Homo sapiens: one gene and its partner. The protein of the gene in region 2 interacts with the protein of the main gene of each other region in a biochemical or structural test. Each region holds a gene or a part of one and is shown on either strand. Other genes may lie near its edges.

The links. The genes of interacting proteins can lie anywhere in the genome.
Region 1: of the proteins of MIPOL1 (region 2) and SRPK2, one has a biochemical effect on the other in vitro, tested with the Homo sapiens proteins (one large-scale study listed by BioGRID).

Annotation. Positions count from the first base shown.
Region 1 is NC_000007.14:105,378,268-105,383,506, forward strand, and holds part of SRPK2 (SRSF protein kinase 2), read right to left. Parts: intron 1-5,239. UniProt on the Homo sapiens protein: Serine/arginine-rich protein-specific kinase which specifically phosphorylates its substrates at serine residues located in regions rich in arginine/serine dipeptides, known as RS domains and is involved in the phosphorylation of SR splicing factors and the regulation of splicing.
Region 2 is NC_000014.9:37,200,291-37,205,529, reverse strand, and holds part of MIPOL1 (mirror-image polydactyly gene 1 protein), read right to left. Parts: intron 1-5,239.

The sequences.
Region 1 (5,239 bases), on a different chromosome or scaffold from region 2:
TTAGATTACAAAATGATATCCATAATGATTAGAAAGATACATAACTTATACATACATCCGAAAAAGAAGTCATCTGAAAATCTACAAATTTTTATAAATCAGTAAGAAAAACTTACGACACAATATTTTTTTTAAAGGGTAGGGGGCAAAAGACTTAAAAAGGCGCTTCACAAAACAGGAAACTCAAATGACCAAGAAACATATGAAAAGATGTTGGCTGGGCCTGGTGGCTCACGCCTGTAATCCCAGCACTTTGGGAGGCCGAGGTGGGCAGATCACGAAGTCAAGAGATCAAGACCATCCTGGCCAACATGGTGAAACCCCATCTCTACCAAAAATACAAAAATTAGCTGGGCACGGTGGCACACACCTGTAGTCCCAGCTACTCAGGAGGCTGAGGCAGGAGAATTGCTTGTACTCAGGTGGTGGAGGTTGCAGTGAGCCGAGATCATGCCACTGCAATCCAGTCTGGCAACAGAGAAAGACTCCGTCTCAAAAAAAAAAAAAAAATGATGTTTAACATCATTACTCAGGAAAATGCAATTGAAAACCATAATGAAATATCAATACACACCCATAATAGGTAAAATTTATTACAATGACACTGCCAAGTGTGGGCAAAAATGTGAAGCAAACTTAAGTGTCTTTACACTTGTGGGAGAGTAAAGTAGTTCAATCAAAACTACATCTTTGAGCCTGGGCAACATAGGGAGATCCCATCTCTACAAAAAATTTTAAAATCAGCTGGGCATGGTGGTGCTCACATGTAGTCCCAGCTACTCAGCAGCCTGAGGCAGGAGGATCATTTGAGGCCAGGAATTTGAGGTGGCAGTGAGCTATGATTGTGCCACTGTCAGCCAACAAAGCAAGACCCAGTCTCTAAAAAAAAATATATATATATATATAAAGTCAGCCCTCTGAAACTGTGGACTCTGCATCCATAGGTTCAACCAATCATGAATCAAAAACAATCAAAAGTAAATAAATAATAACAAAATAAAAACTACAAATTAAAAAAACACCATGTAACAACCATTGACATGGTATTTACATTGTATATATATTATTAGTAATCCAGAGATAATTTAAAATATACAGGAGGATGTGTGAAGGTTACAAGGGACTTGAGTATCCTCAGACTTTGTTATTTGAGGGTGTCCCAGAACCAATCCTCCAAGCGTACTGAGGGATGACTGTATATTCTATATGATTTCATTTATATGAAATTCAAGAACAGACAAAACTAATCAATAATGATAGATATCAAAAAAGTTGTTGCTCCTAGGTGGTAGAGTATAGACTCGGGAGAGGCATGAGAAAACTTATGGAGCATTGAAGGGGTTTTATATACTGATCTACATGGTCGTTACAGGGGTATAAATAAATGTAAAAAAAATCATCAAACTGTACAATTAAGACGAATGCACTGGGCCAGGCGTGGTGGCTCACGCCTGTAATCCCAGCACTTTGGGAAGCCGAGGCGGGCAGATCACAAGGTCAGGAGATCGAGACCAGCCCGGCCAACATGGTGAAACCTCGTCTCTACTAAAAATACAAAAATTAGCTGGGGAGTGGTGGCACGAGCCTGTACTCCCAGCTACTCAGGAGGCTGAGGCAGGAGAATGGCTTGAATCGGGGAAGCGGAGGTTGCAGTGAGCTGAGATAGCGCCACTGCACACCAGCCTAGCGAAAGAGCAAGACTCCGTCTCAAAAAAATATGAGTGCACTGCCAGGCATGGTGGTAGGCACCTGCAGTCCCAGCTACTTGGGAGGCTTAGGTGGGGTATCACCCAAACCCAAGAGGGTGAAAGCGGCCTAGGCAACAAAGCAAGATCCTATCTCTAAAAAAGAAAATTAAAATTAAAAATGATGTTTTATCCTTAAGAGGGAGTTTCACTGCGTCGCCCAGGCTGGCACTAAGTGGTGCAATCTCAGCTCAAAGCAACCTCTATCTCCCGTGTTCAAGCAATTCTCCCACCTCGGACTCTGGAATAGCTGGGACTACAGGCATGTGCCACCACTCCCAGCTAATTTCTGTATTTTTAGTAGAGACGGGGTTTCATCATGTTGGCCAGGCTGGTCTCAAACTCCTGACCTCTAGTGATCCTCACTGATCTTTAAAAGATCAATGCACTTTACATACATGCATATACATGTATGCTAGGACTCAATTTTTGAAAAATGAACAAAACCATGCACAAGTAAAAGAATAACACACCAAAACAATTAGATACCCTAAATTAACATGCTAAAATTTTTTTTTTTTTTTTTTTTGAGATGGAGTCTCGCTCTGTCGCCCAGGCTGGAGTGCAGTGGCGCCATCTCAGCTCACTGCAAGCTCTGCCTCCCGGGTTCAAGCAATTCTCCCGCCTCACCCTCCTGCATAGCTGGGATTATAGGCACATGCCACCACGCCTGGCTAATTTTTGTATTTTTAGAAGAGACGGGGTTTCGCCATGTTGGTCAGGATGGTCTTGATCTCCTGACCTTGTGATCTGCCCACCTCGGCCTCCCAAAGCGCTGGGATTACAGGCGTAAGCTACCACGCCCAGCTGCTAAAAAATTTTTAAATTAAAAATAATTAGTGGAGCCACAGCTGACACTTGCTTCTTAAATCTTCTGTATTATACTGAATTCTGTACTGAATTTTTTACCATGACCATATTACTTTTATTACTTTAAAAAAAAAAAAAAAAAAAAAAAAAGCTGGGCCAGGGGCAGTAGCTCATGACTGTAATCCCAGCATTTTGGAAGGCTGAGGCAGGCAGATCACTTGAGGCTTAGGCCAGGAGTTCCTGACCAGGCTCTACTAAAAATACAAAGAAAATAAGCTGGGCATGGTGGCGCATGCCTGTAATCCCAGCTACTTGGGAGGCTGAGGCATGAGGAGCGCCTGAACCCAGGAGGCAGAGGTTACACTGAGCCAAGATCATGCCACTGCATTCCTGTCTGGGTGACAGAGCAAGACTGCCTCAAGAAAAAAAAAAAAAGTTATTTCATTAAAATGACAATATTAAAATGAAATCTGGCCAGGCGCAGTGGCTCAAGCCTGTAATCCCAACGCTTTGTGAGGCCAAGGCAGGTAGATCATGACGTCAGGAGCTTGAGACCAGCCTGGCCAATATGGCGAAACCCTGTCTCAGTGAGCCAAGACCAGGCCACTGCAGTCCAGCCTGGGCAACAGAGCAAGACTCCATCTCGAAAAAACAAAACAAAACAAAACAAAAACAAAAAAACTAAGCACTACTGTACCTAAATCTTACAGTTCTCATCACACTGTCCTGCAATGGTCTTTTCACAAAGCAATCTCTTCTACTTTAATTATCTTACTCTTCTAGCATCCAACACACACCCTGGCACTAGCTATCTGCAGCACTAGGTATTTGCTTCGTGTCCATTTACTGTATTCTACTGTAGAGGTAGTAAGCAAAAATGTTTGTTGAATAAACAAATGTGTAAAAAAATAAGAAATGAAAATTAGGTAATCCATGAGAAGTATTCCAAAGTCATGGGCTTATGAGCTTGAATTTATACTACAGGGAAGTATAAATTCAAGGGTTGAGGCTTACTGAATAAGGATATAAACTTGTATCATTACATTCCAAAACTGTCTCACCAAGCTGGGCACGGTGGCTCACGCCTGTAATCCCAACACTTTGGGAGGCTAAGGCAGGCAGATCATTTGAGGCCAGGAGTTCGTAACCAGCCTGACCAAGATGGTGAAACCCCATCTCTACTAAAAATACAAAAATTAGCCAGGCGTGGTGGCACATGCCTGTAGTCCCAGCTACTTGGGAGGCTGAGCCAGGAGAATCGCTTGAACCTGGGAGGTGGCAGGTGCAGTGAGCCATGATTGCGCCAGTGCACTCCAGCCTGGGCGACAGAGCAAGATGCCATCTCAAAAAAAAAAGTAGAAGCAAAGTATACCCAGATATCCTTTAGCCTGTGAATAAACTGTTAATCCACACAATGGAATACTTGTTACCAATAAAAAGGAAAGCACAGCCAGGCACGGTGGCTCATGCCTATAATCCCAGCACTTTGGGATGCCAAGGCGGGTGGATCACCTGAGGTCAGGAGCTCGAGACCAGCCTGACCAAAGTGGAGAAACCCCGTCTCTACTTAAAATACAAAATTAGCCTGGCATGGTGGCACATGCCTGTAATCCCAGCTACTCAGGAGGCTAAGTCAGGAGAATCGCTTAAACCCAGGAAGCGGAGGTTACGGTGAGCCAAGATCGTGCCACTGCACTCCAGCCTGGGCAACAAGAGCAAAACTCCATCTCAAAAAAAAAAAAAAAAAAAAAAAAAAGGAATGCTCTGCTCACACAGGCAACAACATGGATGAATCTCAAGGGCATTACGCTGCATGAAAAAAGGCGAATCACAAAAGGTGACATACTGTATAATTCCATTTATATAACATTCTCAAAGTGGCAACATTAAGTGATAGAGAACAGATCAGTGTTTCCCAAGCTTAGATTTGAAGAGAGAGTGACTGTTCTTTGTGGTAATGAAACAGTTTGGCATCCTGACTGTGGTGATTATTCTAATCTACACAAGTGACACAATTTGTTAGAACTACACAGAGAGTGCATGTAAAACTGATAAAATCCAAGTAAAATCTTTCTTGAATTAATAACATTGTCTCAATGTCAATTTATTGGTTTCAACAATGTTCTATGGTTAAGATATCAACGTCAGGGAAGTTGAATAAAGAGTACACAAAGAACTCTGTACCACTTTTGCAAGGTCTTGTGAGTCTGAAATTATTTCAAAAGTAAAAATTTTTTTTTTTTTTTTTTTTTTTTTTTTGGAGACAGAGTCTCGCTCTATCGCCCAGGCTGGAGTGCAGTGGCACAATCTCGGTTCACTGCAAGCTCCGCCTCCTGGGTTCACGCCATTCTCCCGCCTCAGCCTCCCAACTAGCTGGGACTATAGGTGCCCGCCACCATGCCCGGCTAATTTTTTGTATTTTTTTTTTTAGTAGAGACGGGGTTTCACCGTAGCCAGGATGGTCTCGATCTCCTGACCTCGTGATCTGCCCACCTCAGCCTCCCAAAGTGCTGGGATTATAGGCATGAGCCACCGCACCCGGCCTCAAAATTAAATGTTTTAATAAAAATTTTACAAGAACAAAAAACAAAACAGAATTTTTTTTTTTTTTTAATTGAGACGGAGTGTCGCTCTGTCACCCAGGCTGGAGTGCAGCGGCATGATCTCGGCTCACCACAACCTCC
Region 2 (5,239 bases):
TATCAAACCTGCACTTTGTGTACATGTACCCTAGAACTTAAGGTATTAAAAAAAAAAAACTGAATGTGTTTTAACAGCAGCCATGTCACCTCTTGAAAGCTTTGTTGCTTAAAAATTTCTTCCACTGGCTGGGTGCAGTGGCTTATACCTGTAATCCCTGCACTTTGGGAGGCCGAGGTGGGTGGATCACCTGAGGTCAGGAGTTCCAGACCAGCCTGGCCAACATGATGAAATCCTGTCTCTACTAAAAATACAAAAAATTAGCTGGGCGTGGTAGTGCATGCCTGTAATCCCAGCTACTCAGGAGGCTGAAGCAGGAGAATCACTTGAACCCAGAGGTGGAGGTTGCAGTGAACTGAGATCGTGTCACTGCACCCCAGCCTGGACAATAAAAGCAAAACTCCGTCTCAAAAAAAAAAACAAAAAACTTATTCCATCAGATATCTTAAATCATCTCTCTCAAGTTCAAAGTTCGACAAATCTCTGGGGCAGGAGCAAAATGCCGCCAGTCTCTTTGCTTTTGCTACAGTTCTCAACAAGTTCCTCATTTCTATCTGAGACCACCTCAGCCTAGATTTTATTGTCCATATCACTATCAGCATTTTGGGCAAAGCCATTCAATAAGTCTCCAGGAAGTTCCAAACTTTCCCACATTTTCCTGTCTTCTTCTGAGCCCTCCAAACTATTCCAGCCTCTGCTTGTTACCCAGTTTCAAAGTCACTTCCACATTTTCAGGTATCTTTTCAGCAGCACCCCACTCTACTGTATTAGTCCATTTACTGTGTTAGTCTGTTTACTGTGTTAGTCCGTTTTCACGCTGCTAATAAAGACATACTTGAGACCAGGCAATTTACAAAAGAAAGAGGTTTAATGGGCTCGCAGTTCCACGTGGCTTGGGAGGCCTCACAATCATCGTGAAAGGTGAAAGGCACATCTCACATGGCGGCAGCAAAAAAGAATGAAAGCCAAGCAAAAGGGGTTTCCCCTTATAAAACCATCACATCTCATGGACTTATTCACTACCATGAGAACGGTATGAGAGAAACCACCCATGATTCAATTATCTCCCACTGGATCCCTCCCACAACATGAAGGAATTATGGCAGCTACAATTCAAGATGAGATTTGCGTGGGGACACAGGCAAACTATATCACTACTTAACACATTAAACCCAAATTCAACAGCTTAAAACAATACACATTTGCAATCTCACTACTTAACACATTAAACCCAAATTCAACAGCTTAAAACAATACACATTTGCAATCTCACAGTTGCTAAAAATCAGAAATTGAGTGTTGCTTGGCTAAGTCCTCCAGCCCAGGGTCTCTCAAAAGGCTGGAATCGAAGTGTCAGCCAGGGGTGCAGTCATCTCAATGTTCAACAGGGAGAGGATCTGCTTCCAAACTCTCTCGGTGGTCGTTGGCAGGATTAATATCCCTGAGGGGGCTGGGCGCAGTGGCTCACGTCTGTAATCCCAGCACTTTGAGAGGCCAAGGTGGGCGGACCACGTGGTCAGGAGATCAAGACCATCCTGGCTAACGTGGTGAAACCCTGTCGCTACTAAAAATATAAAAAATTAGCTGGGCGTGGTGGCATGTGCCTGCAGTCCCAGCTACTTGGGAGGCTGAGGCAGGAGAATTGCTTGAACCCGGGAGGCGGAGGTTGCAGTGAGCCAAGATCGCACCACTGCTTTCCAGCCTGGGCGGCAGAGTGAGACTTCATCTCAAATAAATAAATAAACAAATGCCTGAGGTTTTTTAGACTGAGAACCTCAGTTCCTTACTGGCTGGAGGTCCCCTTCAGTTCCTTGACAGGTGGGCCTTTTCACAGGTCAGTTCACAACATGACAGCTGACTTCCTCAAGGTGAGTGAGCAACAGAGTGCCAGCAAAAAGGGAAGTCATAGATTTTGTAATCTAATCTGAGAAGTGACATCACACCATTTTTGCCATATTCTAGTAGAAGTGAGCCTCTAGGTCTAGTTCACCCTCAAGAGGAAGGAACTACACAAGAGTGAATACCAAGGTCATTTTAGAAGGCTCCCTATCACAGGTAGTATAATGGAAAAAGCAACTGGAATAAAAACCAGAACAAAAATAGGTTCTAGTAACTATGTGACTAAACTGAGAAGGTAGCCTAAATGACCCCTACGGTCTCTTGGCAGTCTTTTGAAAAAGATTACCAGAGATTAGAGATACTTCATCAAAAGGCCTCATTTCACAAAAGAAAGCTGAGTTCCAGGAAAAGTTAAAACAAACAGGTAGTGAGCCACACTTATTTTGCTCTTATGCCCAGTGCTCTTTCCACTATAGTAAACTGTTTTTGTAATTAATGCTCTAAAACAGTTCTATCTTCTCTTTATGATAGTCTCAAAATCTAATAAATTCAATAGAGAGAATAATAATACAATGCTGACAAAAGCAGCTACAATTGATTAATCTTGTGCATTATCTCTTTTTCTCTCATCAACCCTAAAGCCATCTCTAGATGGTACGTGAAGTTGCAAGTGGAAGTGAGTCATCTGCCCATCCCCAGTCCCAGGTAGCTGGACGTACTAGTAATAAGATTTGCTGGAAATAAATTATAAAAGCAACAAATAAGCAATAGACAAATACATTCACCTTGAACACACAGTCACCCTAAATATGGTAAACAAGATTAAATGTAACCTAAATAAAGTATCTAAAAACTGCAACCAGAAAAGGCAAGGTTTGTTAGTAATGAAATCCTGGAAAATTGTCCCAGAAGTCAACAATGGCAATGTAGTGCAGGCAATATGCAGGGGAGAAGGTACGGTCAGAAGCTAATGACTACAATTGGACTCACAAATACATCCTTACTAATATGAAAGCATCACCTAAGGATGATCGTACAAATTAAATATTTGTGCCACATAAATTCCCTATTTGCTCCCTTATGAAGTCTGAAGCCCTGGAGGGAGGGGACTCCCTTGTCTGAGAATCCCTCCTACTGGCACATGCCCTTTATTACCCATAATAATTTGTAGTGACTCCAAGCTGATTCAAGGAGTGCCATGAAAAACACGCATATGAACACAATTGCTTTGTGTGGGACTTATAAAGCAGGAAGGTATTTACATTAGTCATTGTGTGTGTGTTTGTGTGTGTGTGTGTGTGTGTGTAATGAAATGCAGTATGTACTGGATCCAGAATTTCTATATGAGAAAAGCTTACTTAACTGCAATGAATTGATAGTGGAAGGTGAGGCCCCTCTTAAATCTATCTGCATAACAATCAAGTAAGACTAAAAAAAACAATTATACATATCAAAGAAGGATCACACTGATGAAATTACCCTCACACCCTTCATTAGTATTAGCATATATCTAAATGTGCACTAAATTCACTTCTATAAATTACTTAAAAACAAGAAATGGGCTGGTGCAGTGGCTAATGCCTGTAATCCTGGCACTTTGGGAGGTCGAGGCAGGAGGACCTGAGGCCAGGGGTTGGATACTAGACCGGACAACAAAGGTAGACTCTGTCTCAACAAAAACAGAAAACAAAATAGCTAGGTGTGATGTTGAGCACCTGCAGTCCTATCTACTTGGGAGGTTGCAGCAGGGAAGACAGCTTGACCCCAGGTCAAGGTTACAGTGAGCTATGATTGCACCACTGTACTCCAGCCTGAGTGACAGAGCAAGATCCTGTTTCTAAAAGCAACAACAAGAACAACAACAAATACCTAGAAAGTGTTAGCTAAAAATGTTAACATGGATGGTGGGCTGAATGGTATTAAAGTAAAATTTTGGGCAATACTGAGCAAAAGGCAGGGGGCCAAGAGTAAAAGATGAACTGGGCAGCCCAAAGAGACATTTAAGGAAGAAAGGGCCTCCATCCTGGGAAGAGGTGTCACAGTTGAGCTTCACGGCCCAAGTCAATGGCTATTACGTCCTATATCATGAGTGTACTCAATCACTAGATAAAAATGTCAGAAAACCCAAGATGGAACAGCTCAAAGGACAAAATGCACCTTAAAATATTACAATAACTATATTATATATTTTTACATATTTTTACTCAAAATATCCAGAACTGTCTAGACATTCATCCTTTTCTTTCCTAGCCTTTTAAATAATATCAAAGAAAGACTGTCTCTTCTTTCTTTTCTCACTTCTTACCTGTCTTTTGTTCTTCAGATTTACAGGGTGAGAAGAAAGTGGGAGAAGTAAAAACAATTCAGACAAGAATCAAACTGGCCTCTAATTAGTCTTAAGGTAAAACTGGTAAACCAAATAAAGTATGTTTAGAGATCTGAAATCCAACACCAAAACACTATAACACATGCTGCTTTACAATACTGGCCAGGTGTGGTGGCTTGTGCCTGTAATCCCAGCATTTAGGGAGGCTGGGGAAGGAGGATCACTTGAGCTCAGGAGTTTAAAACCAGCCTGGGCAACATGGCAAAACCCCATCTCCACAAAAAAATATTAAAATTAGCCTGGGCATGTTGGTGTGTGCCTGTAACCCTAGCTACTTGGGAAGCCGAGGTGAGAGGATCACTTCAGCCCAGGAGGCAGAGGCTGCAGTGAACCGAGATCACCCCACTGCACTCCAGCCTGGGTGACAGAGGTACACCTTGTCTCAAAAAAAAAAAAAAAAAAAATACACACACACACACACACACACACACACACACACACACACACACACACATAGATAGATATAGTATTATGGATCTATATTTCTCTAATATAGCCCATCTCAGTTACTGATTTCACATCCAACCAATTGGCAAAAAATTGAACAAACATTTTTCAATAGAGCAGGGGTTAGTACGCTATGGCCCACAACTCAAATCCAGCCAGAGGACTGTGTTAAAAAAAAAAAAAAAAAAAAAAACTAACTGGGAAACCATTAGGTTGAGACAGCTCCAGCACTTTGGGTTCCTATGTAAACAAACCAAAACCCAACTCAATGTAAACAGTAAAACTAAACTTGAGTTTAATCAATCAGAAACCACCAAACAACTTCTAACTAGAGACATTCCACTGTTACCAATCAAATATTTTCTGTTTCCATAAACACCTTATAAAAGTTTTCCCCTCACACCCTCTTGGTGGAGTCTTGAATAACTTGTGGTCTGGTGATACCCAATTTATGAAATTGCTGAATGCTCATATAAACTCTAAAATTTCCATGTGCCTAAAGTTATCTTTTAACAACTGTTTTTGTATAACCCATGAGCTAAGAATTGTTTTTACATATTTAAAGGG